2 separate regions of the Homo sapiens genome follow, and region 2 is linked to region 1. Evidence: fine-mapped expression QTL. A gene starts in region 1. The other region holds a variant in brackets. All regions are shown on one strand. Distances are from middle to middle.

Region 1 (4,397 bases):
TTGCCAATTAAAATGTGTTAATTGACTTAAGTTTTTCTAAAATGGAATAAGTCGCAGGAGCCCATTTTTCCAATTATTCTAGCCATTCTTTTGTCTTCCAATACATACACATAGTATCTGAAAGGATGTTCACCAAATGTCACCAAACGTTGTGTGTGTGTGGTAGAATTTTTAAATATTTTTTCCTGTACCATCATGTATCACTTGATTTTGTATAATAAGCATGTATCATTTCTTTTAATGCTTTTAAAATGATGCTTTTAAAAAAGCATCATTTCTTTTAAAATCCAATGGAACTCTACACATTAGAAGTTATGGAAAACCAGGGCCGGGTGCGGTGGCTCATGCCTATAATCCCAGCACTTTGGGAGGCCGAGGTGGGTGGATCACAAAGTCAGAAGTTCAAGATCTGCCTGGCCAACATGGTAAAACCCCGTCTCTACTAAAAACTACAAAGATTAGCCGGGCGTGGTGGCACGCACCTGTGGTCCCGGCTACTCGGGAGGCTGAGGCAGAAGAATCGCTTGAACCCGGGAGGTGGAGGTTGCAGTGAGCCACGATCACATCACTGCACTCCAGCCTGGGCGACAGGGCGAGACTCTGTCTCAAAAAAAAAAAAAAGAAGTTATGGAAAATTGGCTGGGCAGGGTGGCTCATGCCTGTAATCCCAGCACTTTGGGAGGCCAAGGCAGGCAGATCATGAGGTCAGGAGTTCAAGACCAGCCTGGCCAACATGGTGAAACCCCGTCTCTACTAAAAATACAAAAAATTAGCTGGGCATGGTGGTGCGCACCTGTAATCCTAGCTACTCGGGAGGCTGAGGCAGGAGAATCGCTTGAACCCAGGAGGCGGAGGTTGCAGTGAGTCAAGATTGCGCCATTGCACTCCAGCCTGGGTGACAGAGCAAAACTCCATCTTGAGAAAAAAAAAAAAAGAAGTTATGGGAAACCATCATATAACAGTACTAGAAGAGACTATTTCTCCCCAGTGCTCTCAGATCTCACCACCAGTTTTTCCTGGCCCTGGTCCTGCTATGACACAAGAAATCTTTTGCTCAAGGATAAGTCCTATAAATCAAAACTCCCACACATGGACATAAAATGAGACAGTGGCCAAATCTATGGGGTTGATAAGTCACTGCCACTCAGACATGCCTGAAATAATTAGAGAAGCATTAATTTCATTGTAGATTCTGGTGAGAGAATTTAGAAAAAGGCAGTGCAGCCCGGCCCTTGCACATGCTAAAGGTAAATGTTTTCTTCCTTGGTAAGTCTGGGTCCAGGCGAACAGGAACCAGAGCTGACCATAACTTTGATGACCAGGAACCGTCCACATCCACAGAACACTGGTTGCCACCACTCGCCAAACAAGTCTCTCTAGTTCCCTCATTTGCTCTATTTTTATCACTTGTCTCTTTTGTCTTTTTCTCATATCTGAGATGTAAGTGACTGTCGGCACTCTTTCTAAGCACTCTCCAAGCTTCCCTGAGGCTTGGAGGCTCATTTTTCCAGCTCGTGCACAGTGAAATAAAAAATATTCAGAGACTCTTCCCTGATAAGGTTTTGTTGTAAGACTGGGAGGAGCAGAGCTGGTGTGCTTTTGGGTGGCTTTATTTGTAATTGGAAAAGATTGGCCTTCATGGATGGTTAATCTATACCCAGGAGAGGCGTTTTCCTACTTTCTAGTTCTATAACTCACAGTCCTAAAAGGAGCAGAAGTTGATGGCATCAGGAGACCTGTGTTAAAATCCTGACTCTAAAAAGTTTATGATTGAGTCAACATACATTTGCAAAATACCACCAAGAAACCAGACTTTGGTGCTCAAAAATGGAAGACATAAACTCTGCTTTCAAGAAGCCTGCGGTCTCAGAAGGGTGTGGCAAATGCAGTATAATGGAGTGAAAGAACGGAGTGGACTTCATCCCAGGCACAGGAGGTGGCTGCGCCTGGCTAGGGGCTCCCAGCTTCCACCATGAGGTGGGATGCCAAGGTGTCTGCCCCTCTGGAGGACCTCGGCATCCAGAAGAGGCAGTTTCCTCCTAGAGGGTCACCCAACTCATGCAGGAGAATTCAGAAAATGATTGTTGAAGGAGGTAGCCCTTGAACTATAGAAGAGGTAGGGGTGAGTGACTTTCCAGGCAGGGAGGACAGCACAGACTCGGGCAGTGTCACCTATGAATTCATGTGCTCAATTACACTGTACATGCGAATCAGCTCTGGATCATTCATCCCTATGAGACCCTGATTCTTTGTCTGCAAAATGAAGACAACAACCCTTGCCTGGATACATAAAGAGTTGTGAGGATTCAATAAAGAATATAAAAGAGCTACACCAATTGGCAAGTCCTATTATTATGAAAGAGAAGTGTGGTACAGGACCTGTCAAGATTCAACCCAAGATAACAGTGCTATGTGGAGAAAGAATCTAGCCCTGGCTCTGCCACTAACCTCCCCACCACCATAGGCCTCAGCTTTCCTCATCTGTCCAATTAGTGGCTTGGAACCAGAAAGGCCAGAAGCCCTTCCTGCGCTGATATTTTATTTGTAAGTCCCCTTTAAATCCAACTGCCAGTAACTAGCACGTGGCTCCCGCCCCCAGACTGCTTCTTTATTCATTCCTAACCTTTACCTTGGCAGATGAAATATAAGATTCATCAACCACATTTGACAGCCCATGGCAGGTTTCCTGTTTTCCATCGTCCCTCTGCAGGTCACAGACACACAGAGCCCAGCCGTGGCAGGCTCAGCCGGGGTCCGGGGCTGCTAACAACGGCTACATTCCTCCCCCAGGGCCAAGGGAAATCCTGAGCGCAGGCCAGGGTTGTTTGGTTTTGAGGTGTGCTGGGATGAAAGGCACCCTGGAAGTGGAAGGTTCGGTCATTCATTAATTAATTACATCTATAATTGAGGGTTTGTTCTTAAGAGCGAGTCCTTTGAAAGTACTTTCCTTCAAACAGTGACTGCCACAAAGGCATCAGATATTCACCACCTTCTCGGCTGCCTCAGCACAGCAAGCTTTATTCTGGGACCTGAGATCCTGTTCTGAGCTGGCTTTCCCTTCTCCAGGCTCGCTCACCCTCCCTTTAGAGGTGGGGCTTATTGGGGGTGGAAAAAGGTGTGTGTATCTCTGTTGTTTAATGTCTGGTTTTTTGTTGCTGTTGTTGTTGTTTTGTTTTGGTTTTGGTTTTTGGTTTTTTTTAAGGAAATCTATACTACATCGAATATGCTTTCTTTTGGGTGGACTTTAACCTAACCCATTCCAGGTAAATGAACAATGGAAAAACTTCACGGCAAGATTAGAAAGATACCTGAGCCCAATACCCGCCTGATGTCGTGGGCCACACCTCCGGGTTACCAGGGGAAGGGAGGAAGCAAACTGTCATATTGATGTGGCTCTAAACAACAACAGTGTGCGAAGGCCCAGGGGCACTTTGGGATTGACCAAGAGGAAACACAAGTTGCACAATGATACAATCTTGTTGGTACAATTGTCAGAGAAGGGAACTCCCACAGCAAAGGCCATAAAACCATCCAGGGCAGTCTGGGGCGGCTCAGTTCTGCGGTGCCAGGGAGTGGAGCAGAGCTCAGCCCCGTCCCAAACACAGATGGGACCATGAACTCCGGACACAGCTTCAGCCAGACCCCCTCGGCCTCCTTCCATGGCGCCGGAGGTGGCTGGGGCCGGCCCAGGAGCTTCCCCAGGGCTCCCACCGTCCATGGCGGTGCGGGGGGAGCCCGCATCTCCCTGTCCTTCACCACGCGGAGCTGCCCACCCCCTGGAGGGTCTTGGGGTTCTGGAAGAAGCAGCCCCCTACTAGGCGGAAATGGGAAGGCCACCATGCAGAATCTCAACGACCGCCTGGCCTCCTACCTGGAGAAGGTTCGCGCCCTGGAGGAGGCCAACATGAAGCTGGAAAGCCGCATCCTGAAATGGCACCAGCAGAGAGATCCTGGCAGTAAGAAAGATTATTCCCAGTATGAGGAAAACATCACACACCTGCAGGAGCAGGTAAGATGCTGGGTGACCCTGGAGATCCAGATGGGGCTGCTTTGCCAGGGGACCCTCGGGAGGAAAAATGAGTCCAGAAGACAATTTCCAGGAAAATGGCATCAGCGCTTGAAGTAATTGTGCACAAAGGTTTTGGGGGATGTTTTCTTATTATATCTTAAATTTGGAGTGGGAAACGTCTGTTTTGTTTAATTAGTCTACTGTCCATGGATAATGTAGAAAAAGAAGGCAGCAAAAATGATAGAAGTGCTACAGACTGTTTCAAAAATGAGACTACTGATTTCTCACAGACCAAAAACATCTTTAAAATGTGAGGCAACCAGCTGCTGTTTAATGTCACTTATGACCCAACGATGTCATAGAAATGATAAGGGCTGGTGTTCATGCT
Region 2 (4,397 bases), 65 kb before region 1:
TGTCAGCAGAGAAGAAATATTGGCTGCATCATTAACTTTGAATTGAAATGCAGAATGTTTGGCAACTCAAACACATTTTCAGTTCAACTTCAGCATCAATAATCAAGGTAAAACAACTGCCCTTAACATTAATAATTGTTTATCCTTGATAATATAATAAAAAACAAGATATTTCATTTTTCCTTCAAATTGTTATTGAGGCCAGGCACAGCGACTCGTGCCTGTAATCCCAGCACTTTGGGAGGCTGAGGTGGGTCTACTGTGAGTCCATTAAACTTCTTTCCTTTATAAATTACCCAATCTCGGGTATGTCCCTATAGCAGCATGAGAACAGACTAATACAGTATGGATGTGTCTACATGTGAGTAAGTGGAAAACTACACTGACACCATTTTGAAACTACAACAGAAAGCAAGTTTGAATGCAGCAACACAACTAAATAAAACTGAAGGAGAGCTCATCCCCTGTCTGATACATAAGAAGTTAGTGAGTTATTTTTACAGAATTAGGTAAACAGCAACAAGGATGTTCCGTCCAACATTCTGATGGACAGAAGCCGTGTTCCCTGAGATAGGTGGATATAAAAGACCCATAGAGGACAACCTTGTAGAAGAAAGCCTTCCTTTGCCACAAAACATTGTCCTGGTCCACTGTCACTATGTCTTGCTGTGATTCCTATCTCCAAGGATGCTGCAGCGTCCCCACTGGCCTGGCCACCACTATCTGCCCCTCTGACATAAGCTGTCAATGTGAAGTCTGCCTACCCAGCACCTGTCCTCATGAGATCAGCCTCCTTCAGCCCACCTGCTGTGAACCTGGCCCCTGCCTGGCTGCATGCCTGACTCCTATGTGCCATCCTGTTGACTGCTCAACAAATGCCACCCAGCTCCAACCCTGAGCGGGCTCTCTGTCACCACCTGCATCCAGAGTGTGAACCACCTTGCTGCTAGCCAAAGAGCTTGCCCACATTACCCTGAGGACCTTCAGTAGTCATTAAGCGCTGCTCAGCAAATGGCCTTTAATGAGGCCATTTGGAAGAAAATATAGCACTGTGCCTTCAGTTTTACAGAAGTTTTCTTTTCCTGTTTTGAACAATGATTTCAAATGAGAAATGGGAAAAAAAATGCTACCATGGATCCCCTTACTTCAAAACTAAATAAACACCACTACTCCCCAAACCACATACTGCCTCAACATTTAATGCTATAATTACCCAACGACTCTTGACACATGCATCATGAACTTAAAAATACATCCAGCAGAATTACACTTTCTGATGACATCAACATAAATTTCATAGCCAAAAAGAGGCCTCACAGGCATACGTAGATACCTGAAGAAAACTGTGAGGATAGTGAAATGCATTAGGCTCTAAGCTTAGAATCGTTTTAAATGCCAAGGTCAGCATCTACCTTTGATTTTTATTTTTTCCCTGCCTCTAAATAAACTCACGTGTCCTTAAAGAGGCAGTGAAGCTAGCAATTTGAGATCAACATGCTCACAGAAAGGACCTCAAAGATTGAGCCAAGCCCATTTTTTTCGCTGTCTCATTTAGGTAAATCTTTGAATTTAAAAATGTTGGCCAGGCATGGTGGCTCACGCCTCTCTAATCCCAGCACTTTGGGAGGCTGAGGCGGGCGGATCACCTGAGGTCCGGAGTTCAAGACCAGCCTGACCAACATGGTGAAAGCCCGTCTCTACTAAAAATACAAAATTAGCCGGGCATGGTAGAGCATGAATGTAATCCCATCTATTCCTCAGGCTGAGGCAGGAGAATGGCTTGAACCCGGGAGGCAGAGGTTACTGTGAGCCAAGATCGTGCCATTGCACTCCAGCCTGGGCAACAAGAGCAAAACTCCATCTCAAAAAAAAAAAAAAGTTTTGACAACTGTAAAGCAATTCACACAAAAAATGAATCACTCTCTTTATATAAAGTGTTACTGTTATAAAAGGCCATTATAAAAATAAATAAATACCTTTTTAATTCTAATCTGAAATGTAATCCAATTCAACAAATATTTATCAAATGCCTACCCTGTTTCAGGCATTGTCCTAGGTGCTTGAAAAAGACAAATAAAACTAACATACGATTACCACTTCCAAGAACCTTGCATTGGAGTGAGGAAAACAAATTTAAGTGACAAACTACAAAATATAGCAGAAAGAAATGAGGTTGAAAGGGAAGAATAGGCAGCCCATTTTGTGAGAGCAGAGAAAAGGATGCAAACATCTAGAAGAATCACCTAGAGTTTCTTTATGAAGGGGATGTTTGGCTGAATCTTGAGGGATCAACAGGATTTGGAAACTAGAGAATTGGGAAAGGTCACTTTAAGCTAAAGAAACAGTATGAACGAGGTCACAGAGGGTAAAGTACCTAGGAGACTCCCGCCTTCACTTTATGTAATGTGCTGTATGATTAACATATGCGTGACTCACATAGTTATCATTTTTGTGATGAGAACACTTAATCCATTCTCTCAGCGTTTTTCAAAAATGCAATATATGGTTATTCACTATAGTCACCATGTTGTACAGTAGATCTCCTGAATCTATATAATATTTCAAAATCGATTTTAAAAGAGAAGTCAGAGAGAACACAGAGAATGGGAGAGGGTCTTCTTCATATATTCTACTTGCCAAGCCACTGGCTTCTAGATGAGAGAGACTGGTAAGTCAAGAGTAAGTAAACATTAAACATTTCCTTGACGATTTCAATACTAGTTCATTAACTTTGAATTTTATAATATACTGGGAAAGCCACTTGAATTTGCTT[A/C]TCTGTTCTTCAGTGGTAAAGTGCAGGTATTGAGGCAGGAGACTAGCAAAGGGAATTAAAACTTGGATAAAGGGTGGAGTGAATAAAAGCAGAGACCAGAAGCAAGGTGAAGGGGCAGGTAAGCAAGAAGCAAGATAAGAAGCAGAAGTTAGACCAGGCGCGGTGGCTCATGCTGTAATCCTGGCATTTTGGGAGGCCGAAGCAGGTGGATCACTTGAGATCAGGAGTTCAAGACCAGCCTGGCCAACATGGAGAAACACCCCTCTCTACAAAAAATACAAAACTTAGCTGGGTGTGGTGGCGGGCACCTGTAATCCCAGCTGCTACTTGGGAGTCTGAGGTAGGAGAATCACTTGATCCCAGAAAGTAGAGGCTGCAGTGAGCAGAGAATGCCACTGCACTCCAGCCAAAACAAAAAGTAAGATAGAGAAGAAAGCAAGGCCCCCATGGCCGGCAAGATAAGGACCAAACCAGTAAGGGGCAACTCTTCATGGATAAGCATGTGCATTAAAGAGAAAACGTATCCTTAACATGACCTTGTATGAAAATCAGCTCATTCAGGCTTATGCATATGGACTGCATATCATGTATGTACTTAAAATTATGGGCTGGAGGTGGTGCGCAAGCACACAGGGGCCAAAGTAACTAAGCAACACACCTGTCAATCAAAGAGGCAAACACTGGCTAGAGATTAGGCAGCCTTGGGAAGGGACACACACACACACATACACACACACACACACACACAAAGACGCAAACTGCACCAAGCTGGGGGCTGATCTCATCTCACAGAGGCTGGTTTGCTCTCCCCCTCTTAGAGTGTAATACTGTGCTTAATACACTTTTGTTTCTTTGTTTTGCTGTGGGTGTCTCGTCCAATTCTTTGGGACACCAAAAGCCTGGAACTGCATGGCACCATCTGGTAACAGTATGATGTTCGACACCCTTGGCATTTGTTGTAAATTCCTGCTAATAAAAATGATTTGAAGCTGTTTTCTGTTTTTTTGTTTTTAACTTTTAAGTTCAGGGGTACCTGTGCAGGTTTGTTACATAGGTAAGCTGGTGTCATGGGGGTTTGTTGTACAGATTATCTCATCACCCACGTATTAAGCCTAGTACCTACCAGTTATTTTTCCTGATCCTGTCCCTCCTCCCACCTTCCACCCTCTGATAGGTTCTAGCATCTGTTATTCCCCTCTATGTGTCCATGCGTTCTCATCATTTAGCTACCACTTATAAGTGAGAACATGCAGTATTCGGTTTTCTGTTTCTGCATTAGTTACTAAAGATAATAGCCTCCAGCTCCATCCATGTTTCTTCAAAGGATAGGAGCTCCTTATTTTTTATGGCTGCATAGTATTCTATGGCATATATGTACCACATATTTTTGTTGTTAAAGAAAAAGATAAACTGGTTGTTTTAACGTATAACGTATAAGGCTTACCTACCAATGACATTTGATATTTTCCACTGATTTTAGCCAGCTTTCTTCTCTTTTAAGTAGATCGTACTGGTTTTTGGTAATGTCCCCTCAGAAACAACCTACCCGGAATCTTTGCTTTCTGTTAAGTCAACAAATTGCCACATAACGAGTATGTAATTTAAATTATACAATATTATCTGA

Evidence for each region. PIP is the estimated chance that this variant, and not a neighbour inherited with it, causes the effect.
Region 2: its variant is the best candidate, but not a certain one, in a credible set for the expression of KRT23 in whole blood (TOPMed, PIP 0.53).

What each region holds. Positions count from the first base shown.
Region 1 is chr17:40,935,820-40,940,216 of GRCh38, reverse strand. It overlaps KRT23 (keratin 23), which reads left to right and starts at 2,571. Exons shown (of 9, transcript NM_015515.5): 1 at 2,571-2,871; 2 at 3,264-4,009. The coding sequence starts at 3,614. The region is part of intron 1 of LOC107985072 (a long non-coding RNA gene); the gene reads right to left.
Region 2 is chr17:41,001,022-41,005,418 of GRCh38, reverse strand. It overlaps the pseudogene KRTAP3-4P. Among named protein-coding and RNA genes, the nearest start is that of KRTAP3-2, 3.3 kb to the right of the region's middle. The variant A/C (reference allele first, on the strand shown) is at 2,774.